Regions from separate parts of the Homo sapiens genome. Here all the other regions are linked to region 3. The links come from fine-mapping of genetic effects on gene expression. A gene starts in region 3. Each other region holds a variant in brackets. All regions are shown on one strand. Distances are from middle to middle. Region 1 has its middle 15 kb from the start of LINC02066. Region 2 holds the start of AADACL2-AS1 (AADACL2 antisense RNA 1). Region 3 holds the start of IGSF10 (immunoglobulin superfamily member 10).

Region 1 (10,183 bases), 76 kb after region 3:
TCTAGAAGAAAAGAACAAATTCCTGGACACATACACCCTCCCAAGACTAAACCAGGAAGAAGTCAAATCCTGGAACAGACCAATAACAAGTTCTGAAATTGAGGCAGTAATTAATAGCCTACAAACACCACAAAAAAGTCCAAGGCCAGACGGATTCACAGCCGAATTCTACCAGAGTAACCAAGAGGAGCTGGTACCATTCCTTCTGAAATTGTTCCTAACCATAGAAAAGGAGGGAATCCTAATTCATTTTATGAGGCCAGCATCATCCTGATACCAAAACCTGGCAGACACACAACAAAAAAAGAAAATTTCAGGCCAGTATCCCTGATGAAGATTGATGTAAAAATCCTCAATAAAATACTGGCAAACCGAATCCAGCAGTACATCAAAAAGCTTATCCACCAAGATTAAGTCAGCTTCACCCCTGGGATGCAAGGCTAGTTCAACATACCCAAATTAATAAACATAATCCATCGCATAAGCAGAACCAATGATAAAAACCACATGATTATCTCAATAGATGCAGAAAAGGCCTTCGACAACACTCAACAGCGCTTCATGCTAAAAACTCTCAGTAAACTAGGCATTGATGGAATGTATCTCAAAATAAGAGCTATTTATGACAAACCAACAGCCAATATCATACTGAATGGGCAAAAACTGGAAGCATTCCCTTTGAAAACCGGCACAAGGCAAGGATGCCCTCTCTCACACTCCTATTCAACATAGTATTGAAAGTTCTGGTCAGGGCAATTGGCAAGAGGAAGAAATAAAGGGTATTCAATTAGGAAAAGAGGAAGTCAAATTGTCTCTATTTGCAGATGACATGATTGTATATTTAGAAAACCCCATCATCTCAGTCCAAAATCTCCTTAAGCTGATAAGAAAAGTCTCAGGATACAAAAATCAATGTGCAAAAATCATAAGCATTCCTATACACCAATAGCAGACAAACAGAGCCAAATCATAAATGAACTCCCATTCACAACTGCTACTAAGAGAATAAAATACCTAGGAATAAAACTTACAAGGGATGTGAAGGACCTCTTCAAGAACTGCCAACCACTGCTCAAGGAAATAAGAGAGAACACAAACAAATGGGAAAACATTCCATGCTCATGGATAGGAAGAATCAAAATCGTGAAAATGGCCATACAGGCCAAAGTAATTTATAGATTCAGTGCTATCCCCATCAAGCTACCACTGAGTTTCTTCACAGAATTGGAAAAAACTACTTTAAATTTCATATGGAACCAAAAAAAGAGCCCACATAGCCAAGACAATCTAAGCTAAAAGAAAGCTGGAGGCATCACTCTGACTTCAAACTATGCTACAAGGCTACAGTAACCAAAACAGCATGGTACTGGTACCAAAACAGATATATAGACCAATGGAACACAACAGAGGCCTCAGAAATAACGCCACACATCTACAACCATCTGATCTTTGACAAACCTGATAAAAACAAGCAATGGGGAAAGGATTCCCTATTTCATAAATGGTGTTGGGAAAACTGTCTAGCCATACGCAGAAAGCTGAAACTGGACCCCTTCCTTACACCTTATACAAAAATTAACTCAAGATAGATTAAAGACTTACACGTAAGACCTAAAACCAAAAAAGCCCTAGAAGAAAACTTAGGCAATACCATTCAGGACATAGGCATGGGCAAGGACTTCATGACTAAAACACCAAAAGCAATGGCAACAAAAGCCAAAATTGACAAATGGGATCTAATTAAACTAATAAGCTACTTCACAGCAAAAGAAGCTATCATCAGAGTGAACAGGCGACCTACAGAATGGGAGAAGATTTTTGCAATCTATCCATCTGACAAAGGGCTAATATCCAGAATCTACAAAGAACTTAAACAAATTTACAAGAAAACAACAACAACAACTCTTTCAAAAAGTGAGTAAATAATATGAACAGACACTTCTCAAAAGAAGACATTTATGCAGTCAACAAACATATGAAAAAAATCTCATCATCACTGGTCATTAGAGAAATGCAAGTCAAAACCACAATGAGATAACATCTCACATCAGTTAGAATGGCAATCATTAAAAAGTCAGGAAACAACAGATGCTGGAGAAGTGGAGAAATAGAAACACTTTTACACTGTTGGTGGGAGTGTAAATTAGTTCAACCATTGTGGAAGACAGTGTGGTGATTCCTCAAGGACCTGGAACTAGAAATACCATTTGACCCAGCAATCCCATTACTGGGTATATACCCAAAGGATTATAAATCATTCTTCTATAAAGACACATGCACATGTATGTTTATTGCTGCACTGTTCACAATAGCAAAGACTTGGAACCAACCCAAATGCCCATCAATGATAGACCAGATAAAGAAAATGTAGCACATATACACCATGGAATACTATGCAGCCATAAAAAATGATGAGTTCATGTCCTTTTCCGGGACATGGATGAAGCTGGAAACCATCATTCTCAGCAAACTAACACAAGAACAAAAAACCAAACAAGTTTCTGTTCTCACTCGTAAGTGGGAGTTGAACAATGAGAACACATGGGTGGGGAGGGGGGTCATCACACACTGGGGCCTGTCATGGGGTGGGGAGCTGGGGGAGGGGTAGCATTAGGAGAGATTCCCAATGTAGATGACGGGTCAATGGGTACAGCAAGCCACCACGGCATGTGTGTACCTATGTAACAAACCTGCACGTTCTGCCCATGTACCCCAGAATTTAAAGTGTATGTGTGTGTGTGTGTGTGTGTGTGTGTGTATGAAGGTTTGGGCAGGGTTATAGGAATCTAGAGGAAACTACAGAATCACCTTCACTGGATGCATGAAAAATGTAGTTCCATCCAACTGTTCTGTCACAGTAGTTACAAGCATACACGAACTTTGGAGTCAGACTGATAAGGGATCCAATACCAGCTTTATCAGTTTCTATGGGTGTGATCTTTGGCAATTAAAAAAAAAAGCTATCTACATTTCAGTTTTCTCATCTATAAAATTAAAGATGATACTATCTCTAAAGGTTTTTGAGAGAACTAAATGAGAAAATGTAACTCAAATGGTAACAACATCTGACACAGTGCAAAAACAATAACTATTAAATCTAGTTATCATCCCTTATTTTATTCCTAGTAGAGGTATTATAATGTGGGCCACCACAGAAACTTATTTTTGAGGATATTTGGCTGTAATAAAAAATCCCAAATAAAAGAAAAAAAATAACAAAATCACATACTTTGCAGCAACATGGCTGCAGCTGGAGGCTATTATCCTAGGCGAATTAATGCAGAAACAGAAAACCAAATAATATACTTCTCACTTATAAGTGGGAACTAAACACTGGATACTCATGGACATGAAGATGGCAAAAATAGACACTGGGACTACTAGAAGGGGAAAAGGTTGAAAATCTAACTATTCGGTACTATTCTCACTACCTGGGTGAAGGAATCAATCGTACCCTAAACCCCACCATCACTATATATACTCATGTAACAAACCTGCACATGTATGCTCTGAATCTAAAATAAAAGTTAAAATTATTTTATTTAAAATAAGATATAAAAGTTCATATTTAGAATTAGAATTTACAATAAATTACATATATATAAAGTATGGTAGGTATTACAAATAGTGCAAGTCAGGAAATCTTTCAATTCTAATTATTTGCTTACATGCCTCTAAATTAACTTTTTTGGGCTGCATTTTCTTTGGTTGCTTCATTCTGTCACAAGTCTTACATTTTCAATAAAGAGAATAGAAAAATAATCAAGTCTTTCCTCTAGAATGATAGAGCAAAACTCATTTTTGAAATTGATGGCTTCGCAGTTTCTTTCAACTTCACTGTTTATTATTTGTAATCCTGTACATGGAGCTCCAGCTGCAGCTTCTTGCTGAGATGGCACTACTTTCAGGGGCAGACTTTCATATGTTTGCAGCCCCTTGATCTCAGTCTTCATATTCTTTGGAAGCTGCAATTTCTAGGTTGGCTAGGTCCTAGCTGCCACTGTGTCCTG[T/C]CCCACCATGGCTACTAGTCCTAGGGGGATTAAGGGGATGGGAGGTGGTGGTGAAATGCCATGAAGTCTAGCATTGACTTCTGAGCAGGAAGCAGGGAAAAAATCTCATTTGTGCCTTTCTCCTTGGAGTCAAAGTCTGGATACTTCAAGAGGTCCCCTGGGACAAGGTTGTCACTTGGGCTGCGTGGATGTGAAGGTAGGACTGGCAGCCTCTCAACTCCACCTACGGATCTAAGACCACCACGAGGGCAGAGAGGGTGACCCTCAGTCTGAGGTTGATGATTCTTTCCCATGTAGAGTTTATTTAGCAAATAAAAATGTAGGTTGCATTTGTTATTTGGGACCTACTTAAGTGAAAATGTTATTCATTGTTTATCTGAAATTCAAACTTAATTGAGCATCCTGTATTTTATTTGGCAACCTTATCACTGTGGCCCTACATGACAGCTTTGAAAAGGGTCCATGCAAGGAAGGGATCCTGAAGCTTAAGTTTCATTAGCATTGTAAATCTGTCCTGATTCTACTGTAAAGCTTAACCTCAGTTACTGTTAACCAAGGTTAACAATAAAATGTTCACCAAAAAAATGCCGAATCTAAAGTACCAGATTTGACTAGAGGCTAAAAAAGATTTTGTTTTCTCTTTACTTTTCCCCTTAAAGTTCATTTTGTTCAATTTGGCCCACTAATTTAATATGGGCCAATATTTTGAAGTCTTAATTCTGTAATACATCACATTAACTATGTGAACTACTTCTAGCATAATTTGATTCTTAAATTTGATATGCAGGTGATAAACCAGTCCTTTTAATATCAGAAAGACACAGGCAAATTACCTTGGCTGATGGGTATTGAAAGAACTATTATTCTAGGTCCTGTTGCTTTTAAAACAGCAGGCCCAATAAGAGTGAGATCCCCAAACTACAGAATTTAAGTTTGTTCTTTATTCGAGCATTTATTCTTTCCAATAACAATATTTGCTTGGGATGATTTGCAAGGATTTAATATGGGGGGACTGTGAGGGAAAAATTTTTGGGTAAGCCATCTCAAAGGCAATTTTTTTGCCTCCCTAAAGTTGGGCACATTAGTATTTGCTTTGATCTTGCATTGTTACTTTGGCCAATCAGTTGTGGCTAGAGCAGGAGTGTAGGATTTACTCAATACGTATAGCACTGAGTCATAGCAACATAGGTAGTAAAGAATCAGCTTGGGTTACTTTCTCTCAAAGGTAGACAGATGCTCAAAGATTTGTGACTTTCCCCTGAAGTCTGAAGAGAATAACAAGCTATTGATTTTTGTCAAAATTATAGAGAAATATTGATGAGGTTGAGGCCGAGAAGAAAGAACTATAGCCTGTCACTAGGCAAGTCTGCACTCTTTAGATGGAGACAACATCATTAAATCATTCAAAGCCAATTGTTCTACCATCTAGTTCATTTTTCCCCATCATGTACATGATGCTATGATGAAGCACTTGACTAATTAACCGAAATAGGGTTTATACTATGCCTTCTTCATACACCAGTTTAGCCACACTGTCAAAAACCAAGCAGTGAAGTTAGTCTGTAATGGCCTGTTATTGACAAAGGCATTCTAACTTTAGTCATCACTGTTTCCTCTTCTAAGTGTTCATGGACTCTTAAAAAAAATAATAATCTCTTCTAGGATTTTTGTCAAGCTCTCTGATCTGTAATTCAATAAACCTACCTTCTTTCCCTTCTAAAAATTGGAGCAACATTTTCCATCCTTCAGTCTCCTGGAACCTCTCCTGTTTTCCATGGTTTCCCAGTAATTACCCACAGTGGTTCAGTAATTATAGACATACGTTCTTTCTGTTCCCCAAGATGTAGTTTAGCTAGGCCAAAAGATTTGAAATCCTCAGAGCAGCTAGGATCCCTCTCATGAGCCCTCCTGCTTCCTCAGTTTCAGATTCCTCTGACTATTACTCACTCCTCACTTTTCCTGGGTCTACGACTTGGCAGAGATCAAAATTGTGGGATTCTTAATAGTTGCCAAACTTCACGTTTAGTTAAGGGTCTTCAGAAGGACCTACTAATTGTCAGATGCAGAGTCAAAGTCTCATTCTGCGACTTCACTGATAAACATATTTGATATTCTTAGAGGTTTCTTAGAATTGTGATGGGTCACTCCTGGGACCACCATAACACCAGAAACACAAAGCCCATAGAAGTTCATTATTGCCCACTCATTATTGCTTAATATATTTCTTTAATTATTAACTAAAAGCTTAAAAAGGCTGTTGCCCTTTTTATAACGAGAAGGACCTGGATTTTTTGTGGGTCTGTGCTTGTTTCATTTGGTTTTTAATTCTCTCTCACTTAAATAAGGACATTATAATGGTTTAAATGGTTAAATACCTCACTTCACAGCCAAGTAATAGTAGAAGAAACGTAAGACCACAGCCTAAGTAGAATGAGAAATGTAAGTCTTCGGATTATTCATTGGAATATAAAAGTGAGAAAAAGGGTATCTAGTTCCAATATTTAAACAAACACAATCACCAAGACTTTGATGCTGTTTTTCCATTAACACTGCTGACATCAGACCCCGAGCAGAATTTCCATAAAGAAATTTAATTTAAAATGTCCAGGACACAATATTGCTTTAAGAACATTACTCTTTCAACCCCCAAGTCTAGCGCAGTGTCTGGCATGTAGTAGTCACAGAACAATGTTGAGTTGAATTTACAAGCCCCACATAAAGAATGTAAGTTAAATCTTGGACCCTTAAAACCATTATAATTGTTTCACAGGCAGCAAGGGCTCAGGGAAAAAGAAAAGGTTTTAGAACAAAACATGCATTGTGAGAACTGTTACTCCAGCAAACGAAAACACATCCCAATAACAATAATACTTCAGTTTCTGTGGGCATTTGAAGAGGCACGATAAAGAGCCAGCTTTTTTTCTTGCCTGTGTTTTTAAAAACACTGGAAGAGGAACAAAAATTTCTGGCAGATGGCGATCAAAATATCAGCTTCATTGCTGTTGGAAAGGGGCCTAGATTTTGGTAAGGCTAGACCTGCAAATACAGATCCCTAGAATTAGGGACTTACTTTAATCCTTGCTTTTTTCCAGCGGAGTCCACATGTTACACATGACTACAGAAGAGTCACAAGTCACAGCAGTCCAGACAAACGCTCTGCTTCCCACGTGGAGGCTTGCTCTGTAACCCGAGAGAAGACCAGATGCAGACGTGAACTTTCGCATAGCCGCTCTTAAGAGGAAGGGGAAGAGAGGAGCTAGCTATGACTGCCCTCTTCCTTCTTTTAAATTCATCAAATAGGCGAATTCACTCCACCTGAGTGTTTGAGTGTTAAGGGCGGAACAAGAAACTGGTGCTTAGAAAAACCAGAGGAGTGGAGCATTGTTTCTACTTAAGGGTCTTTTAACACATCTTGGCTTAAAATATGTTTACATATTCATCTTCTTCCCAAACTCAGGATGGCAAGCAGAGTACATATTTTCCCTCTTTTTACAGTTAAGAAATGGAGATGCAGAAAAAAATGTGTCATAGTCACTTGAAACTCATTGTATCAATATGAATCTGTAATCCGACCACCCCCACCTCCAACACCCAGCTGGTTGTTCTCTCAATAGATAGTGAAGAGTGATCCTTGATGATTATTCTTAGGCTGTAATCCTTTCACCCAGCATTATTTCAACAGCATCTATCTATCTATCTATCTATCTATCTATCTATCTATCTATCTATCTATCATCTATCTGTATCTATCATCTATCTATCTGTCTATCTATCATCTCTGTGTGTGTCTGTCATTCGTCTGTCTGTTCATCCATCCATTCATCTAAGAAACAAGAGGTGCAGGGAGGGAATTTGTAGTGAGAGGCTTCTGACAGAACTGGCCTTAGTCCGAGCCTAAGTAACCTAAATAAGTTTTTCATCCCCTTAGCTGGGCGTCAGTGGTGTCATTTTGTGGTGGGAAGTGAAAGAAGACTTTCTAAATCGATGAACAAATCAGAAGCCTATCCCTCAATTAATTGTCATAAAGAAATCTCACCCATCACAACCAAATAACATAATTTAAATTTTTTAATAGAAGTATGAAATAAACACAGAAAAGCGTATATATCATAAGTGTACAGCTCAGTTAATTTTCAAAAATTGAACATGTGTAGCCAACACTAGATCGAAAAACAGAACATTACCATTTCTTCTGATCTATATTATTCTCTTCTGGTCACCCTCACCCAAGGGTAAGTTTACCTGAATTTCTAAGATAATACATTAATTTTGCCTGCATTGTACTTTTTATGAATGGAGTAATACAGTATGTACTCTGGTGTCCAGCTTCTTTTGCTTAACATTATTTTTTTGAGGAGTATCCATATTATTGTGTATATTTGCAGATCATTTATTCTCATTAGTGTGTTGTACTGCAGTGTGTAACTAAACCACAGTGTAGTTATCCATTCTACTTTTGATAGCCTGTGAGAAGTTGACAGTTTAGAGCTATTATAAATAGTAGTGATGTGAACATTCTTGTTCGTACCTCTGGTGCACATATATCTATGTACTTCTGTTGACTCTATGCCTACAGTGGTATTGCTGGGTCAGAGGGTATGTATTTGTTTGGCTTTTGTGGATGTTAGCAGTTTTCCAAAGTGTTTACTAGTTTATACACCCACCAGCAGTGTACAAAAATTCCAGTTGCTTTACATCCTCACAAGCCTAGTCCCCCACGAAAATGCACACGAACCAATCCCTGCAATCTGTGAATATGATACCTTGCATGGCAAAAGGAACTTTCAGAGCCACAGTGGAGATCCACTAGTAATTTTGTTGCTCTCTGAGGATCTCCTCAGTTTTTCACTGTTGAACCCTGAACAACCATCTACATTTTAAGTGTGAAGGTTACAGAAGAAATTATTGGAACAACTGCAGAGGGGAGACATCAGAGGGAGTTCAGTTCCAGATAGTGGAAATCATGCTGAAGTTTGTATAGTGTGTATGGAACAAATGATTCCGTTTAAGGTTAAAAAAACAAACCTTAAAATACCCTCAAAACCTCAGTAGTTTAATTAAGTTCATTACATCTGATGTGATTAGCAGTAAGATTCATAAACTATCAGTTTCTCCTACATCAGTCATGTTTTTGACTGTCCACAGTTATCTAAAACATATTTTACAAACTTCATGGCAGAAAGTCAGATGTGTCTGTTGAAGTAGAATGACTTCAAGACAGTATATCTTTACATTATATGGGAGGCTAACAAAACAGTAAAATTTGTTATGATACAGAGCTGAGTCATGTCAAAAAAATCATATTTTAGAATTTGATGTCAGTGAGATTAGCTAGCACACTAAAGTTCTTTGTTTAATTTGCTAGGCCATAAATTCAGTTTTCTTATAGTCATATAGATGAGATTTAAACACATTACTGAGTAAACAAAGTACTTTTAGAGGTTTGCTCATGGTTGTATTTTAAAGTTGACACTATTCTTTTAGGAGGCTGATATTTCTAATTTTATATTGTCCTTTTTGATAAATTGGCTTCTCTCTCTCTGCATATGTTTTAGTTTTTTCTTTGTAGTATCTCTATTTTTTATTATTTCATCTTACTAATACCTCCTCATGTCTTATGAAATTCATCATCTTTTCCTCCTTCTCTCGAGGACATACAGAAGTACAATACATAAATACATATACATACATATGTGTGGATGAGTGGATAGATAGATGTATGTCTGGGGCCCAAGCTAGACCAATCAGCTGTGGAGAAAATGGGGGTCAAAGCAAGCTAAGCATGGCCACTTTCTCCCTTAAGAAAAGCAACTTTCCTTAGAAAGGATTGTGTATGCGGCAGGTAGCATGACCAATGTTCTTAACACATTCTTTGGCTTCATTTTAATCTCTTTTCCTGAGTTGTTCCTTAAATTACTGTTGCTTTCACACCCAACTCCCTTCTCCTCTCATTCACGCTTAAAAATTTCCCAGGTGATCTTATTTATTCAGTGGCTTTTACAGCACTTGCTTTATCTCCAGCCCAAATGACTTTCAGGTACTCCAGGTTCTGGCTATCACACAGGCACTAAACTCAAAACATTTCAAAATAAATCCATTATTTTATATATCCAGGCTGCAAATGCTTTTCTTCCTGTATATCTTATGTCAGAACCATAAATGCATATAAATAC
Region 2 (9,621 bases), 460 kb after region 3:
TTACATTGACTAGTTTTTCTTTCCCCTGCTAGTGCCACAAGGGAAACTTTCATGAATATTTACCATGAGAACCTGGAGGGGTTCCCAGAGGTAAAAACCCATAAAATTGTTGAAGCCTCTCTAAGATTGGGACCTCTAGGAGTTTTTTGCTCTCAAATAATCCATACTCAACCTCTAGGAATTTGTTAAAATTAATATTTTAGTTTTTCTGCCAGCTTATGGTGCTAATGGCTTCTGCTCCAGATAAGTTGCTCCACTGTGACTGTCTGGATTCACGTATGTATTCTTTTTCTACTGACCACTATAGCAAATTACTACAAACTTGGTGTCTTAAAACAACACAAATATATTATCTTAAAATTCTAGAAGTCAGAAGTCTGAAATCGTTTACATCAAGCTAAAATCAATTAGTCAGCAGGGCTATGTTCCTTCTGGATGCTCTAAGGGAGAATTCATTTTCTTGCGTTTTCCATGCATTAATATAAGGCCAAGCACTTTTCAAACTGGTATCACAATAGTTCTCTTCTGCTACCCCTTCCAAATTTGAAGACCATTATAATTATATTGGGTCCAACTAATATTGCAGGATAATCTCCCTGTTTAAATATCAGTTGATTAGCAACCATAATTCCATCTACTACTTTAATTCCTCTTTTCTTTGTCATATAGCATATTCATAGAATCCAAGGATTACGACTTGGATTTCTCTTCAGCCATTATTTTGCCTATCACTGCCTGTCCAGATTTCAGTGGCAGGTTGCTCTGAAACCTTAGTTCTTTGATAGATCTAAGAACAGTTGTTGATTCTTAGTTTCTTCAGCTTTTTGTTATTTAAGGATAGGAGTGATGACTTCTAAGCTTTTTTTTGAGACGGAGTCTCGCTCTGTCACCCAGGCTGGAGGACAGTGGCATGATCTCGGCTCACTGCAACCGCCACCTCTCAGGTTCAAGCAATTCTCCTGCCTCAGCCTCCTGATAGCTGGGACTACAGGTGTGTGCCACCACACCTGACTAATTTTTGTATTTTTATTAGAGATGGGGTTTCACCATGTTGGCCAGGCTGGTCTTGAACTCCTGACCTCAGGGGATCTGCCCACCTTGGCCTCCCGAAGTGCTAGGATTACAGGCATGAGCCACCACGTCCGGTCGACTTCTAAGTTTTTTAGATGGTGGGGCTAACACTAGAAGTAGTAAGCACTTTTTCATACTAAATCCAGAGTTCTTAAATAGCAGTAACTGAATCTCTCACCTTTTTGTCTCTGGCATTTATTAGATGGACAAGTTTTGAGTGAGAGGATGTGGAAGGAAGGTAATCTCTCCATTAAAAACACTTTGCTTTAGATTTGAATAACTTAGAGCAAAAGATGGAATATAATAGATTGACATTTCACAGAGGTGTCTAAGTAGTCCTTTGAAAATAAATGAGGACAATTACAGTAGATACAAAGAAGACTGTCACTGGATTATGATTTGAAAGCTGTGCCCTGTATCCGGTGAAGTTTCTCTTTAAAGAACATTTTGTGCTTCATCAAAACCAAACCAAATCTAGTCAATCCTATTTCAATTAATTTGGTTAGCCATGAATTTTTTTTTTAAATAACACCTAGAACACATTATTCCAGGGCTACTAAAATATACATGTACATCACTTAAACTACTTTCTTTCCATCATCAAAGAGTATGCTTAAATACAACTCCAAAGCCAAGGGTTTAATCCTAATCTTTTAGAAATTTTTTTTTAAGTTTTGAAAATTACCTACATATTATGATTTCCTAGATATTGTTGATGAAATGTAAATGATGGGGAGGACAACTGCAAAATGACATACAGGTGTCCTGGAGGACTCCACGTGACTTTATCCCAATATATGTATGCATTATTAATCACCAGGATCCACAATTTTGTGATCATAATGTTAAGACTTTTTTGAATCTTT[T/C]GGGCGAATGTTGATATGCATTTTTTATTTCCCTCTAACAAAAAGTCTTAAAGTCTCCTCTCTCTTGTCTTTTTACAGTATAACCAGAGTAGAATGTGGATTTAGGAAATATGATAAGTTGTATACCATCTGGTTCTTTACCATAGACTATTTCCCATGCTATTATATCAGAGGGCAGAAACTGGCAGCCTCAAATAAAGTTTGTTCTGTAGATACATTTTTTGGGAGGTCAGATATTTTATTAGAAAAAATTAAATCAGTTTTTAACATTTAAAAATCAGAAGATTTTCAATTTTAAAAATCTACATTTTTGGCTTTTTTAACTGGGAACTTATTTCCACCCATCAAGAGAAGACTGATCTTAAGAGAAATGTCTGTCTTGGGGAGGAGTGCAGGATGGCAGACCTCTTTATTTTGGCAAAATTCCTACCACACTCTATTGTATTACACCCAGTATATGCATGAATTTTCTCGATAGACATTTGAGTTTGCACTCCCTGACACTTTCCTCTGCTACTTCAGTTACTGGCTCTTATCACTGACATTTAAGAATCTCTTTATAATGGCCTAGAGAATAAAGTTGCATAGGATGCCTATCCATGGAAATTCCAATGTTCATACAGAGCTAAATCTGTTCATCAGTGTTTGCAATAATTGCTATGCTTTAAAATTTGTAAACGATAGTTGAAAGGAAGTCTTGCAGCCAGATGATATCTGACTCATTTTTGTAGTATGATTAATTGTGCTATAAAAAGTATTTTTTAATCTAGTCAGGATTCTTTAGGCTCAAGAGACAAAGAATACTCAAGCCCAGATGAATTTAAAACTAAAAGTTGAGTGTTATGGTTGGAATCTAGGAGACCTTTAAGAAACTGGTAGTGAGACTAGCAGAATTAAAAGATAGGCAGGGGCTGGCTGGGTACTCTGGGCTCTCTTACTAAGTGTCTCTGTTTCTTAGTGATTTTTTTTTTTTTTACAATGTCTCTTCTTTTTTACTCACTCTTCTTTTAAATACTTTTTTGCCTCCCAATTTTAACCTTCACAATGCCACACAATGTCCATCCCAGCCTATGACTTTTTTGGCCACAGTTGGTTGGTTTTTTGAGAGGACTCTGGCCTAGCTCATCTTTTGCAACCAGCCAGAGGAACTGTAAGACAACATGCAGCTTCTGGATTGGTAGCCTTTGGATAAAAGCGTTACTTGTCCAATCAGTCACAGCCAATGATGTGTTAATACCATCATAATCACCATCATGTCATCTCTTATCATTACTGTCAATATTATTGCTAACACGTCTTAGATGCTTACTATGTACCAGACAATCTCCTAAACACTCTAGACCTGATTCATTTAATCCCAATTACAATGTGTGAGGCAGACACTCTTTTGACCATATTTTACGGATGAGGATATTGAGCATGGTTGTGGTGCTCAGCAGGGACTTGAAGGCAAGGGCAGCATCCCTTATTGCTAGCTGAGGGACAAGCATAATAGATGTGTCTAGAAAAAACTGTTTTCCCTTTGGGCTTGCAAAATAGGAGGTTCACAGAGAATTACAGGGTAATCCCTTTATTGAGAAATTACTAAAACTGGTTTGCAATTTGCTTTGTTTGCACAGTTGTGCATCTCTCTAAATGTATTACAGGCTGGTACAGTCAGCACTCGCAACGGGACAACTTCAGGGTCAGACTTTAAAGTATATAGAGCTTTTTCACTCCCATTCCCTTTTCTGTGTTCCCAGATTCCATGAATCCTTTCTTTCCACTCTCTTCCCCTTCAGTCAGTCTCTGCTGTTGCTAGCTCCTCGTGAATTCTTTAGTTCTTTCCTCTGAAGACTCAATCTCACCCACAGGTTTCGACAACATTGTGAACACGGGACTCGGCAAGGTCAAGCAGTGACCAGACTCGGGGAATACTTGAGAATAAATGTTTGCTGCCCAACCTGAAACACCTAGGTAGTCACAGATTTTGTGCAGAGTTGGTGCTTAAAGGCCAGTTGCAGGCCCTGTGGTAAATTTCAGGAATAAAGGTAGGACCTCAGTTGAGAACCAGCAGCCAAATACAAGTCAAAGTGCAGCATAATGAGAGATGCACAAATATCAAAGCAATCCAAGAAGGAGAAATTAAGTAGTGGCAGGTAAATTAAAAGTCAGAGAGAGCTTTGGAGAGAGTGAGCATGTTGGGATAAACTTTGTCAACCTAGAGGATGTGGCTTCGGTGATCTCATAACCATGCGCCGTTGGGGTGTTATGAATCTGTACACACCACAGGTGGAGGCTTAAAGACAGCTATGTGCTCATTGAACTACTGAAAGCCACACAACCCAGATTTTCTTCCTCCAGGGGGTCTCAATGGAACACCGTTCCTTCTCTGTTCCCTCCTTCCCTCTCTCCCTCCCTTCCTATAATTGCCCTTTTCAGTCCTTTTCAGGCACCAGGTACTTTTCAGGTGCTAGGGATCTAGTAGTGAATAACACCCTACCCTCGAGGAATTCACATACTAGAAGTAAAGAGAGACCATAAACAAAAGTCCTACTGGAATTTCTATTTGCCAAGATTTCCCCGATGTATTTTTTGGACGTCAACCTAAGCCTGACCAAGAAACCCTCATTAAAACAAAAGTTACAGCTCCAGCCTCTGTGTGGCTAGTGGATAAGCCTCAAGGCAGCTCACAGCTCCCTCCTGAAAGACTTGTTTGCCTCATGGTTTTTTATGGATGAATCATGCTTCCTACTAGACTCCTGAGATTTTTTTTTAAAACTCTTGTCTTAATGTTCTTTTCTTTTACCTCTTTTCTTTTTATCCTAACCCACCTTCAGAAAATAATAAGATACAAGTCATGTATAACTTAAATGTATGTAAAACTTTAGTTTAAATAAATGTACCATCTTTCAGGGACACAGCCATCTTACTTCTTAGTTTGAAAAGTTGAATGAAAGTATTTTTTCCCTATTAGAAACATTTTAAAAGTAAGGATCTAAATGAAGTGACTACTAAGAATAAAGCCTGTCCAAATATACACCTTTTTTTATTATGTGGAAGGCAGGAATTTATTCAATGTTTCCTTCGGTTTTAACCAGAAACAAAAAGTACCTCATGCCTTCCAAAAATGCTCAAAGATAACGAGGAATTACACTGCCTCATCCTAATTCTCTCAAGCTTAAATTTCTTAATTACAGTTGTTTGCCAGCAGTTCTTTATTAGTATAGAGTCAGCTTCCAACAAAGGAGGAATCATTAGTGCAGCAAGATAGCTGGCCTCTTCGGGAGGAAACAGACAGCTGGAAGTCCACGACCAATTCTCAGTAAAGGGACACTGCATGGGTAGGAAAATGGTTGAAAGTAAACTTAGGTAGCTGAAAAGAGCCATGTCTGCCATGGCCTCGTGTTGAAGTTAGAGCAGAGCACACCTATTTATTCTGACAATTTAAGACCTCATTAACTAGACACTGCTTAGGGCAAATTAATTGTGTTGAAAGAGAAACACCCATCAATACATTTATTAAGTGTACCCCTATTATTAGAATCTTTATATTTTATATTCTGGGTAGGGTGGAGACAGCGAACTTGCTCTATAAATGATTAGTAAAGTGTTTTTTGTATATTTGAGTCAGACTAAAAAGTGTCCAAATATGTGCTAATGGTAACCCAGTCTCTAAAAATAAACTATGTGCCTGTTGCTTACAATGCTGGCTTCTTTGAGATCTATTTTACATGGTTTTTCCATGCCCAGAAAAAAAGAGGTGCGGCTCTTACTGCAAACACATTTGAAAATCTATCTGATGATTTTGTAGGGCCCAGAAAGCACCTAAACATGACTCACATATTACCAGCTTCAGAGCAACTGAAGCGATCGTAGCGATTGTTTTTTAACTCCCCACAGATGTTGGAAAATTACAAGGCTTGTGCTTCATAAAAATATCACTCTACCTACGCCTGGCTTCTGCCTTTATTTTAATGAATGAGAATGTGTAAAAATTTGGAATTGTGCATGTTTGAATTCCATAGGCAGTGATTAAGATTAACTAATTGATTGTGCAAAGCTTCAGAAAATTGAAACCAACTTGCTATATTTCATGGGCTTCTATCAAAACAAAATAAAGATTTGTTTGGCCTTTTTTTTTTTTTTTCATTTTCTGCTTTTATTGCCTCTTCTTTCTCCTTACATTTTATCAGAAGACAAATATTTTGGGGGCTTGAGGAGAACAGAAAAGGGCAAATTTCTCCATGTTATAACATTTTCTTATAGAATCTGACTCTGCAAAGCAGAGAAGTGATTCAGCTAACCTCCCTCAGGTTTTCTTTCCTAAATTTTATGCATGAGAAACTGATGCTCAGAAAGATGTTCACTGGTTATTCCCAGACCCAGAAAGCAAAGTCTATTTTCTTTATTCGAGCCATGTAACTACTACCAAAATTTTTCACTGAGTATAACCAAAACTAACTTCAGATGAGTTAAATCCAAAAGGAATTGTCAAAGTTTGTTGTATACTCACAGAATTTCCGGAAAAGCTGGAATGTTAGACTCTGAAAATGAGCAGGAACCACGAAAAGCTGAGTAGCAGGAACACGACCAAAATTATTCCTCAGGAAACGTTGGGATGGGCGTTATTGAGAGGTGACAGCGTGCTGGCAGTCCTCACAGCCCGCGCTCGCTCTCGGCGACTCCTCTGCCTGGGCTCCCACTTTGGCGGCACTTGAGGAGCCCTTCAGCCCACGGCTGCACTGTGGGAGCCCCTTTCTGGGCTGGCCAAGGCCAGAGTCCACTCCCTCAGCTTGCAGGGAGGTGTGGAGGGAGAGGCGCGAGCGGGAACCGGCGCTGCGCGCGGCGCTTGCGGGCCATCTGGAGTTCCGGGTGGGCGTGGGCTTGGCGGGCCCCGCCCCCGGAGCAGCGGGCGGGCCCCGCCGACCCCGGGCAATGAGGGGCTTAGCACCCGGGCCAGCGGCTGCGGAGGGTGTACTGGGTTCCCCGGCAGTGCCAGCCCACCGGCGCTGCGCTCGATTTCTCACCGGGCCTTACCTGCCTTCCCGCAGGGCAGGGCTCGGGACCGGCAGCCCGCCATGCCTGAGCCTCCCACCCCCTCCATGGGCTCCTGTGCGGCCCCGAGCCTCCCAGACAAGTGCCACCCCCTGCTCCACGGCGCCCAGTCCCATCGACCACCCAAGGGCTGAGGAGTGCGAGCGCACGGCGCGGGACTGGCAGGCAGCTCCACCTGCAGCTCCGGTGCGGGATCCACTGGGTGAAGCCAGCTGGGCTCCTGAGTCTGGTGGGGACGTGGAGAACCTTTATGTCTAGCTCCGGGATTGTAAATACACCAATCAGCACTCTGTATCTAGCTCAAGGTTTGTAAACACACCAATCAGCACCCTGTGTCTAGCTCAGGGTTTGTGAATGCACCAATCAACACTCTGTGTCTAGCTACTCTGGTGGGGCCTTGGAGAACCTTTGTGTCTAGCTCAGGGATTGTAAATACACCAATCTGCACTCTGTGTCTAGCTCAGAGTTTGTAAACACACCAATCAGCACCCTGTGTCTAGCTCAGGGTTTGTGAATGCACCAATCGACACTCTGCATCTAGCTACTCTGGTGGGGCCTTGGAGAACCTTTGCGTGGACACTCTGTATCTAGCTAATCTGGTGGGGACGTGTAGAACCTTTGTGTCTAGCTCAGGGATTGTAAACGCACCAAATCAGCGCCCTGTCAAAACAGACCACTGGGCTCTACCAATCAGCAGGATGTGGGTGGGGCCAGATAAGAGAATAAAAGCAGGTTGCCCCATCCAGCAGTGGCAACCCGCTCGGGTCCCCTTCCACACTGTGGAAGCTTTGTTCTTTCACTCTTTGCAATAAATCTTGCTGCTGCTCAGTCTTTGGGGCCGCACTGCCTTTATGAGCTGTGACACTCACCGCGAAGGTCTGCAGCTTCACTCCTGAGCCAGCGAGACCACAGAACCCACCAGAAGGAAGAAACTCCGAACACATCCGAACATCAGAAGGAACAAACTCCAGACGCAGATGCGCCACCTGAAGAGCTGTAACACTCACCGCGAGGGTCCGCGGCTTTATTCTCGAAGTCAGTGAGACCAAGAACCCACCAATTCCGGAAACATTATGGCCGCACTGCAGAATACCAGGTATTGCCCCTACCAACCCCGGACATTGCCTGTCATTAGCGCTGTCACCAGCACTGTTCAGACTCTGGAACTCTTGTCTCTGCTACCTGCACTGGGACAAAAATCTCCTTTGTCCCTGTATCTTTGCATCACTTGCTCTAGAGTGGATTTCCTGGCAGGTTATATGCCTTTATCCTCGGTACTGCAAAATCTGCAAAAGCAAGCGCCCATCATTTCTTACTTTTGTGGACACCGAAAGTAATGGATAATTCCTTACCCCATTCCTTGCCCAAGAAAGGAAGGGACTGCATGTGATAGGCAGCCACCACCACCAGTGATATCAGCCTAACATATCATGTTTATATTATTCAGTTAGAAAAGGAAAAAATGGCCACTTTTAAACAACATTTATATAATAAACAGTTAAAAAAAAGGAAGAAGCTGCACAACCCAAAGAATGTAGAAGAAAGAGCCCCTCTGCTACATCTAAACCAAACCTGTTACTACTTTGCCATGTTACCTTGAACAGGACCCTTCACCTCTCTGCTCCTGTTTCATTGTCTTACAAATGAGGGGTTGGACCAAGTGATCTTAAGGTCCCTTCTTTTTTGATATTCTCTAACTAAAACATGACAGTATCAAAGGGGGAGACTAGGTGGCTTAGTCTGTGGCTTTGCCAATCAGATCTCAATTGGAAGAAACAATCATGAGGTTGAAAGCAGGTTTGTGCAAACAGACAAGAAAGAAAACCAAGGTATTTTTTAAAAATTGTATCATTTGTGCTCTGATCCAGAAAGGGAAATGGGTTTTTTTGTTTGTTTGTTTGTTTGTTTGTTTTGGAAATGGAGTCTCGCAATTCTCCTGCTTCAGCCTCCCGAGTAGCTGGCACTATCAGTGCACGCCGCCACGCCTGGCTAATTTTTTCTTTTTTAGTAGAAATGGAGTTTCACCGTGTTGCCCAGGCTGGTCTCAAACTCCTGAACTCAGTCAATCTGCCCACCTCGGCCTCCCAAAGTGCTAGGATTACAGGCGTGAGCCACCGCACCTGGCCAAGGGAAAGATTTTAAAATTCATCTCAAGGGGTAAAATATTTGTCACCAACTAGAAAGCAGAATATCATATCAGAAAAAATCACTCTCACCTTTGTCCATATGCTGGAAGGCAACTGGAGTAGCCATCTGGATTCATTCATAAAAATTTGCTCTGTTAAAGCAAAGTGGATACAAGAGCACTTGGTAAGCCAGGACTGTATTGTTTCTGCATCATTAAGGTTACTCCTGTTGTCATTTTCATTGAAATCATAGGCATCATCTGGCAGGCTTTTTTGTTTTTTTGTTTTTTTTTTAATTAAGGGCTAGGGTTTTGTTGTGTCAACCAGGCTGGAGTGCAGTGGCATGGCCATAGCTCACTGCAGCCTCAAACTCCTGAAACAATTCTCCTGCTTCAGCCTCCCCAGTAGCTAGCACTACAGGCGTGCACCACCACACCTGGAAATATTTTTTCATTTAATATTTTATAGATACAAGGTCATGCTGTGTTGCCTAGGCTGATCTCAAACTCCTGGCCTCAAGT
Region 3 (10,183 bases):
TTTATTTTATGGCACTGTATTTTATGAGGAGCTTTGTAAGACATTTCTTTCTGATTTAAAAATCATACATGGCTGTGCTTTTCCTGAACAGTTTAAGTTTTAATAGATGTCATGTATTGTTAGCGTCTTGAAAGCTTCAAGTCCTACTTATAGCAGACTTAAAGGTCTCTATGTATGCATTTCCTCATGTTCCCTTTATTCTTTTCTCTAGGCTTATTTTACCTTTTACTTTCTCACTTACTTTTGTGATCATTCTTGCATGATTTTATGCATTCTTGGGAGTCCTCTTAACTTTAAAAAATTGAACAATGTAGAACATGAATAAGTAAATAAAATGAAACTGAAAATAGTACATTGATTTATATAAAACTATTATCTGTCTAAGATAGTCATTACTTTTAGGAACCACATTCAATTCCCAGATAAACATGACTAGAAGTGTCCTTTTAGGATTAAATTTTGAAGGTTTATCGTCTCTGGGTATTGATTTTTTTTCTATTAGCTTGAGGTAGTAGAAAACTTGCCTCAGAGTTCTTATTATTCTAATTTATACACACAGTTCCACAGTTAAAAATCAGTTAACATTCTCCATTGACGTCTGCTTCTAATTTACAGAATGTTGATTTTCGTATTGTGTAGAGATAGGCAGCCTTTGAAGGTCTATCTCACAGGTCCCACCTTACCTCTTTAACCTGCCCCCTCTCTCCATCAGTCTCACCTGCAAGGCCTGCAAATCTGAGAAGGTCTTGTCAGGGATTGTGTGAATGCCATTGCTGTGAAGCATGAGTAACTCCAGTTTGGTCAGGCCAGAAAAATCTGTTTCCATCAATCTAACCAAGCTGTTGTATCTGAAATAAAAAATGACATTCTAGGCATAAGCTAAGTCTGTCAACTAAAGTTCAAATGTCATAACCAAAATAAACACAAGAAAACTCAATACCTCTCTTTATAACTGTACTCTATTGAGACAATCAAATGCTTCAAAAACTGAAATTCACCAGATGCCACAGAAGGTCGGCTCTCTACCCAGTTCTTGCCATTTCAGTTACAATCACCCCCCTCATATTCTGGGAACTTGTCACATTTCTTATCATTTTCAAACTTTTATATATATGCTGTTCCCTCAGGTTGGAATGCCCTTGACCTCACCTTTTTCTATTTGTGAACACTTAATATCTAGCCCATTCTTTCATGACACTATCTCCTCACCACTCCCCCAGGTGGAATTCGTCAGCAGTGGTTAAGAAGCCTGGGCTCTGGAGGCCAGGCTTGGGCGTCTCGTTTGGGTATGATTACGAGCTCAGGCTCAACAGAGTAGTGGTACAACCCTGGGTAAAATCAGCAGGCTTTCTGTGCCTCAGTTTCCTCATCTATAAAATGTAAATAATAGAACTCACTCCAAAGGGGTTATGAGGATTAAATGGATGCAGTGCTTAACCCAATGCCAGCACCTACTGAGCACAACCTTAATGTTAGCTCTTAATATTAGTGACTGTCTCTAAAACACTTTGTATGCTCTATTAGTTTTTATTAATTGTACTGACCGTACATTTGTCTGGTCTTTTTAACGATCAATACACATCCTAGAAGTGAATAGTATATCTTACCATTGTATCCCCAGTGCATAGTACATGCTCACTAATGTCAAATAAACGATGCTAAGTCCAACATGTGTATTCAGACACACACAGACTTTTTTTTCATGAACGTTTAAAATACAGTCATATTTTTAAAAATTTAATTAGGCATCCATTTTAAATAAGTTTGTATGGAAAGAAACCAAAGGGCCTATAAAAAGGATACATATATATATATATGTATGTATGTGTGTGTGTGTGTGTATTATATAGGCAGACACTTCCAGTTACCCTGTCATCTCTTATGATGAATGATCATAACCCCAATAGTTAACAGAAACTATATCATTTTCCAGCAAAAATGTAGCCAGAAAGAAGCTTTTTACCGTCATGAGTCTCCCAACCTACCAAGAGGGACTTCAAATTCTAGAAGAACTTTCTCCTAATAAAAGTTTACCAGGAAAAGTTTTCTTATTGCCCCCAACAAACAAAATTCTCATGAGCTCATTTCAGAAAAGAAATATTGTTAAAACAATTGAGATTCATCTCCCAAAGTCATAGATGTTTGAGGGACAAGTCACTGCTGCGACTGATCCCTCTTTGAGAAGAGGAAACATGAGGTCTCACACACCCTAAATTGATGCGTTCCACATTGGGCGGGATGCTGTCTGGGATGGAAGTCAGGTACCGAAATGTGCAGTGTACCTCCGTAGGCATATAACAGGCACAGCGGCGAGGACAGGCCTTGCCCCCAGGGGTGGCGACCAGGCAGATCACAGCAAAGGAGACCAGCAAGCAGGTGATTCCTCTGCCTTTTACCTTCATCCTGAAAAAACATCATACCTCAGAGTTATAAAGAGTGGTGGAGCAAAGTCCCAGGACCACCACACACTCACTCTGGGAATCTGGGAGACCTTCTTTAAGGGTCGTAAGTGGTCAATTCCATTCCTACCCTTTGTGGTCATATGCACTCTTTACAAAACTATAGTGTGTGCTGCTGGCCTCACACTGCGCTTTATGATCAAGTGGGATATTTACTGTTGTGAAAATTTCTTCACAGCTTCTCACTTCTTTATGAAAACCAGCAATCCCTATTACTCAGGCATTCATTAAAAGGGAAACTGGAAACCATAAGAAAGATTGTGACAACTAAAATATATAGAATTTAGTTTCCTTTATATACATTAATTCTTTTAGAGTAACTTTCAAGAAACTGATTATAACAGTAATATCTGTGCATAATAAAACATTTGGAAACTGTAATTAAGCAGTAAAAAGGAAAAAAATTACTCAATCTCACCACTTATATAATCCTTAAACATGTTGTTGTATTCCTTTCCAGCCTTTTTCATCTATTGTGTGTATATGTATAGGTGTACATACATTTACGTGTATATGTGTACATGTGATCAAACTCAATTTTGTAACACATTTTATCATTTCATATATAATGTTTTTTCATTTTATTAAACCTTCTTCAGAAACATTTTTTAAAGGTTGTAATAATCCACTGGAAGGGAGAATAAATCTCTTTCTAACCGGTTTTCAAGTCCCTGCCAAAAAAAAAGACACATTGAACACTTCACTGCCAAGTAATGACCATAAGCAACAGCGACTGACCAGCTGAGAGGGCTTGAGCCATGCTGACCCTGTGCAGGCATGATGCTGTCTGCTTTTGCTCAGCTTCGGACATCTCTCTGCCTTTTTCCTTGGTCCCTCCTCCAGCTCATGGCTGCCACAGGAGGTGGGGAGCATAACCAGGGAAGAAATATGCTCAGCTTGTCAGAAAAAAAAAAATGGTATCTGTTACCCATATGTGGGGCAAGCCCAGGAATTCAAACCTAATTCTCTCCTGAAATGCAGGATTGAAATAAACTCTTTATTGTGCTTTTCCAAGCAAAATGACCTTCATAATTTGTAATAAATCCCACCGTTCTGTGGAACAGCATGATGTTGGATTCCACCAGCAACCACCCTTTAGCTACAAACTACACTGAGAAATAACACTGGGGCTGAACTGCTTGGATTTTCATACAGATAAAAAGATGATGGATGTATTATTATAATTTAGTCCAAATTAAAATTTAAGATAGGATTAATCATATGACCACTTTTGCCATCGTAACCACCTGGTTACAATAATTTTAAATAAGCTTTGTATGATTGGAGACAGCATTTCCACCTTATCATTAGATAAACAAAGGAAGGAACAGCAGGATGAAGGTAATTCTCTCGTTCAGCTTAAATAAAAGTTCTGGGTATGCCCACGTTCAAATTATTTAAAAGAGGATCAATAGCATAAGACAACACATGAATAAGGGATTCTCACAAACGTAAGGCTGAAAATGTACATAATGAAATAGGAATTGGCAATACCTGAGCTCTTCTTTCAGGTCCTGAGTCCTCTTGTGACATAGGCAGAGACAGAAAATCTTCCCAGGAAATGGAAAATTGTGTCCAAACCTGAGGGAGGAAAAGTTCTCTGCTCCAAAGTGAGCAAAAAGCCTTATTCTTTTTGGCTTACAGCCAGGAGTAATGCTCTTCAGGGAGACCTGGAGCCGCTTCCACAGCTTCAAAGTTCTATAACTCATAACCACATTAACCCAGAAGCGTTCTTTTATTATGATGCTTGCTGTTGCAGAAACAAAAGGCTAAGTGGAGGTTTTTAAATTTCCTTTCTCCTCCCTCAGTAGTGTACTTAATACTCCTTAAAGTTATCACTTGAATATTAACTACTACTAATCACTCCATTTTGCTCCAAAGTCCCAAGAGCTTCTCCTCAAATTGTCTTTTTTGGACAAATCTGTCACAGATGTCTCCATCTATTGATTGTCTTTCCTCAGTGTGTGTTTTTTTTTTTTGCCTGGCACCAGTCACCGAAGAATTGTCGTGTGCTTTCATGCCCCCACCTTCTCCGGGTGCGTCTTCCCTCCCCCACCCTCAGCCCTCCCCGCCCCAGCGCCCGCTTCTGCAGCCACGGTACTCGCTCCATTCCCACGCCAAGCCCCAGCCGGCGTGGGGTTCCAGCCCTTTCCGGGGAAGGATTGGCCGAGGCGCTCACCTGTTTGCCCTGGTGACCAATGGGCTCGAGCTGCCCGGGCTAGGTCCCGGGCTCGGTCCCGGGCTCAGCTGCTGGGGTCGTGCGGAGCTGGTCCGGAGCTCTGGGAGGGAAGGAAGGAAGGCGGAGCGAGGGCGGGGGATGAGCCCGACTTCTGTGTCTGGGGACGCGGCCGGGGCTCAGCAGCACAAGGATGAGAAACGACCACCGGGCCCCTCTTTATGTTTACGAGCGTGTGGGAAGCTAATTCGCCGTGGCTTCACTCTTTAAATTCCCAGGGCTTTCTCCTAGCAAGTTGGCAGGTCCTGGCTGGGTGGCAGAGCAGTTTCAGTGGCCGCCCGTTCATTTCCTCCTTGACCTCTTCCACCTGTTGACAGGTGGGCCTTTTGGTTTAAGGGTTTACGTAAATCGCCGCAGGCTGTCCTTGGTCCTGTGGCTCCCAAAGTTCTATTTGAAGGCTAAGTTAGCGTTAATGACCTGTGATACCTGCAGTGTCAATGTTTTATTTAAACCCCTCTTTTAAAAATAAGTAAATTATATTGCGTATATTTAAGGTATACAACATGTTATGGGCTATATACAGATAGTAAAATGGTTACTATAGTGAAACAACATATCCATCATCTCACATAGTTACCCCATTTTTGTTTTTGTGACACGAGCAGCTAAAATCTACTCTTTTAGCAAGAATCCCAAATACCATACAATTTTATTAACTATAGTCCTCTTGCACATTAGATCTATATAAATGTATGCTACTGTGTATTCTCTGATCTACATTTTTCCATTTCCTTTCTCCAACCCCTATAACCACTATTTAATTCTCTATCTCTGTATAATCGACCTTTTAGAAAAAGATTTCACATATATAAGTGAGATCATACACTATTTTTCTTTTGGTTTCTGGCTTATTTCACTTGGCATAATGTCCTCCAGGTTCATCCATGTGTGACAAATGGCAATATTTCCCTTTTGTTTTTTAACTGCCAAACAATATTACATCGTATATAGATGTCTCAGAGGAATTCTTTTAAATCATTATCACAGAACCGGATTTAAATACTACTATTTCTGCTTGGATTACATTCTCCTTTCTCATCTCCAACCCTACCATCTGGAGGCAGAGATGCCTCCAGAATCACCTCTACCAACTTGCCCACATGTAATATCTCCTGCAATTCTTGGTGGGGCTCCCAATACTCATAAACACTGAGTTAACATAACTAAAATGACCTTGTTTCCTTCCACGTAGTTACATAGCACTTAAGCTTTTGATGACAATTTGCAATGAATGTTTTAGGGCAGTGGATCTCAAGATAGGGTCACGGGTCCAGCATCAGCATTACTTTGGACTTCGTTAAGATCAAAAATTTGCGGGATCCATCCCAGACCCACTGATTCAGAAACTGTACGAAGGAGGCTTAGGAGTCCATGTGTTAACAAGCCTTCCATATGATTCTGATGCAGCTACAATGTGAGAATTGCTGGTTTAGTGAAATAACTTCTGAAAAATGTTTTACAAATACCAACTCATTTCAGCCTCACCATAGCACCAAAAAGCCTAAAAGGAAAGTATTTATGTTATTCCCATTTTACAAGTAAGGTACATGAAGGAAAGTGACAGAACTCCAGGCCATGTGGCTTGTGAGTAGAAAAGCCGTTAATTCAAACTCAGGCAGTCTTGCCCTATGGTCTGAACGTTTAACCATAAAGTTGTGGCTGCCTCACTTAGCTAAACATGGATAATGTGCCATATCCCATGCCGAGCATTCATGTGATTTATGGTTAGTAATAAGTCAGTTACCAAAGTAGAATTATAGAATCAGAGACTCAGAGTTAGAAGTAACCCTAGAAGCATGTATATGAACATGGTCTTTAGCTCTGCAGAGCTGACAAGATTCTTTTAAATTAAAAATTCACGTGATGTCCAAACTTGGATGCTTGCTTTGGAAATGTGGCATATTTGTCGGGTTTTGGCAGCCACAGTTTATCTTTCTCCCAAAGCTCCTTGGTGACCAACCTCATGGCTTCGTATTCTTTAGTCAATTTCTAACCCAGGTCTGGACTTCCAGACCTCAACTAGGATGAACCACAGAAAGATGACAGCAACATGTTAAACTTATTTTCCTAGGCTTGTTACCTGGGGTCATTTTCTTGCTATCAATTTCAAAGTGAACTCCTGATAGGAATGTTTGCTTCTCTTAAGAATTTTTATGAGATAAATCTCTACAATTGCTTTATGTCAGAGCTCTTCTCTGACGTATTTTCTACTTTTCATGTCATCTTCCAGAATTATTAGAAACCTGAGTCATATTGGCACCAATTCTAGTTCCATTTGCTCCACTTAATAACAATTCTAATATTTGTAATTACTTTTATAGTTAGAGTATATATGTGTCAAAGCCTTTATATGTATTGCTTAATTCTCAGAAATATTCTGATGAGTAAGTGCTAAAATTATACCAGTTTTTCAGATGAGATTGCTGAGGATAAAGAATGCTAAATGATTCAGAGCCAAAATACAATACTGAATTAATTTTAAAATTGTAAAACCAATGCTTTTAAGCCTTACATTTTCTGGTTTTTTTTTTTTTTTTTTTTTTTTTTTTTTTTTTTTTTCTGAGACGGAGTTTTGCTCTTGTTGCCCAGGCTGGAGTGCAATGGCGCAATCTCGGCTCACCACAACCTCCACTTTCTGGGTTCAAGCAATTCTCCTGCCTCAGCCTCCTGAGTAGCTGGGATTACAGGCACATGCCACCATGGCTGGGCGCAGTGGCTCACACCTGTAATCCCAGCATTTTGGGAGGCCAAGGCGGGAGGATCACCTGAGGTCAGGAATTTGAGACCAGCCTGGTCAACATGGTGAAACCCCGTCTCTACAAAAATACAAAAAAAGCCTTATATTTTCTATCTTCTTCCTGCTTCTATTTATAAAATTTGGAGAGTCCACAGCATATCAAAGAAAAGTTTCACCACTCTTTTTTCTAACCATGCTTAATAATGCAATATGTTTCTATAGATTCATATGGTTTACAAATCACTTTCACCTTTGAACATGGCCTCATTTAATAAGAAATATATGAAATTCAATGATAATGACTTTATTTTGTAATTGTAACTTTATTTTGCAGAAGTTAATTGAGTGTATAATTTGCCAAGATCTCAGAGCTGAGCATAGCGACTCTGAGTTAATTGTCAATCTGAACTCCTAAACCTGTGTTTCCTGGACTACGGTAATTTACCTACGCTTTAAGGATGGTTTGACATTTTAATTACCTCTCACTATAGTTTTACCTAATGATTTTCTTTAAATCCTCCCCCTCTTTTTGTTACTCTTTTCTTAAACAGTATTGTTGGTAAATTCTCAGGCTTTGTATTTTTTCTAGTAAACACGACAATAAATATACATCTTCTTCACCTTTTATATCACCCCTGAGAATTACATTTCCCCTCATCTCTAGGTCTTTGACATTATTTGCTGTCTTTTCTAGTAATTACTACTTCTTACTCCTCATCCTTAATTTATCATCCATACCATCCTTTACATCACCCTCCTAATCAGAGTATTTATTTAACACCAATCAACCAAGCGCAAGCAGTTACAAGTCATAGATCACCTGACAATCAGAACAAGCTATGAATTTTAAAACTGACTTATATATGTGTCAACAGATAACCAAATGCCAAAATTGTTACATATCTTTTAATCAGGCACAATCATTACCACCTCCCAGCTCCACAATTTTCATATTATTCAATTAACCAAACAGTCAAGACCTCCACTGAGTGATTCCAATAGCAGTGAAGTAGACTGACATCTTAGCCCTTCCTTTTTTGAAGTTACAGACTAGCACGGTAAGTGATAAGTGCCATGAAGAGACATAATGCAGGAAAAGGAGGTAGAAAGAAAATCAGTATCATCTTTCTTCCAATACAGTTGCAACTCAACCAACTAAAGTCAAACTACATGACTTGAAGACTTTATATATAGTATTCCAGATCTCTAACCTTTCAGAGCTTTCAGAACACCATGTATGGGTACAGTTTTGGAAGATGTGGAGAAAAATTTGAAGCAAATGCATGGTCCTCTTATAAGTCCATGGACTCTGGATTATAGGAAATAGAAAAACTACCTAGGAGGCAATTATAATAGTCCAGCCTTAAGACAATGAATTAAAGTGGTGGTTGTGAGAATAAATAAAGATTTTAGATCTGGAGGAACAAGAGTTAAGATTTTACTTAGGGAATAAAAGAGAGGATGGATGAATCTCACATTTTTGTTAGTGACATCCAAGGATCCTAGGAAAGCCAGGGCTGAAGTAGATAAAAGTTAGAAACCTGATATAGATGCAAACCTGAGAGAAGACTAAGGCAGAAGGAGCACAAGAATGACCATTGTTGTTGTCAAGAGTTTAGAAATAGGTGCCTGAAGAGCAGCTCTGCTGACTTTAGTTTTGTACTCTGGTCGCTGTAAATGCTCTGTGTTGCTTTTATGATAAGTATTGTATCAAAAGCCATTGGTTGAGGTTTGCAGAACTCACCATGATTTCTTAAGCCTGGGTAGGAGATGCACCTAAGAGATTTGAGAACTCTTCTAGTTTCTTCTTCTTTTTAATGAAAAGACATTATTATTACTTTACTATATAACATATTAGTGAATACGGCAGCTTGTATTTTCTCAAATGGGAAATGGCAAATGAGGCACATTTTTCTGATTTCTCCAGGAAGCTCAGTATCATCTGTCTTTTGGAGGATTTAATTTCTTATGACATCTGTCATACTATCCAGAGGATACCAATGGTGCTGTTACAGCAAACTAAATATGGCCTGAGAGGGACGTTGTACTTCTATATTTGAGTCCTTGTGGATGAACTGTAATCTAATTTAATCGGTAGACAAGATTGAAAACCTAACTTAGGAATATGCACCTGTAACAATTGCTGAGTCTTGGCCAATCCTAGCAGTCATACTTCAACCACTCATGCACTGCTGAGTGTCAAACTGTGTTCAAATAAGGCAAATGCCAACCTGTAACCAATCCAGCTGTTTCTGTACCTCACTTCTGATTTCTGTATATCATTTTCCTTTTTTTGTCTATAAATTTTTTCTGACCACGAGGCATCCCTGTAGTCTCTCTGAATCTGCGGTATTTCTGGAGGATGTCCAATTCATGAATCGTTTTTTTCCTTGTTCAATTAAACTTTGTCAAATTTAATTTGTCTGAAGTTTTAACAGATCTGGCATCAGAAGTGGGATTCAAAGTAAAACTCTGGCGACCCCCAGAAATACCAGGTGACCAGGCGAGGTACCCGCTGAGCCCATTGTGCTCACTGTTCTCTTGATTGTAAATGGAGGTCATGGGTGAGTTTTCTCTCAGATTCTGAACTCCAGTAACTTGTGTTTTGGGGTCTCTGAGTTTACTTGAGCAATACTTAGACTGCACCGAGTCTAAGATCAAATTGGATTTGATAATTAACTGGATTGAATTCAATTAGAGGCCTTGGACCTTGGGTAGGTACTTTATTTTTAATAATGGAATTATCTCAGT

What was found. PIP is the estimated chance that this variant, and not a neighbour inherited with it, causes the effect.
Region 1: its variant is the best candidate, but not a certain one, in a credible set for the expression of IGSF10 in blood mononuclear cells (TOPMed, PIP 0.73).
Region 2: its variant is the best candidate, but not a certain one, in a credible set for the expression of IGSF10 in fibroblasts (GTEx, PIP 0.75).

What each region holds. Positions count from the first base shown.
Region 1 is chr3:151,532,073-151,542,255 of GRCh38, forward strand. It overlaps a transcript of IGSF10 not described here. Among named protein-coding and RNA genes, the nearest start is that of LINC02066, 15 kb to the right of the region's middle. The variant T/C (reference allele first, on the strand shown) is at 4,011.
Region 2 is chr3:151,921,425-151,931,045 of GRCh38, forward strand. It overlaps AADACL2-AS1 (AADACL2 antisense RNA 1), which reads right to left and starts at 6,751. Exons shown (of 3, transcript NR_110203.1): 1 at 6,433-6,751. LOC107986047 (a long non-coding RNA gene) reads right to left here. Exons shown (of 3, transcript XR_001740567.1): 3 at 9,128-9,252. The variant T/C (reference allele first, on the strand shown) is at 1,938.
Region 3 is chr3:151,456,308-151,466,490 of GRCh38, forward strand. IGSF10 (immunoglobulin superfamily member 10) reads right to left here and starts at 4,754. Exons shown (of 8, transcript NM_178822.5): 1 at 4,639-4,754; 2 at 3,954-4,040; 3 at 2,209-2,403; 4 at 719-848. The coding sequence starts at 2,402.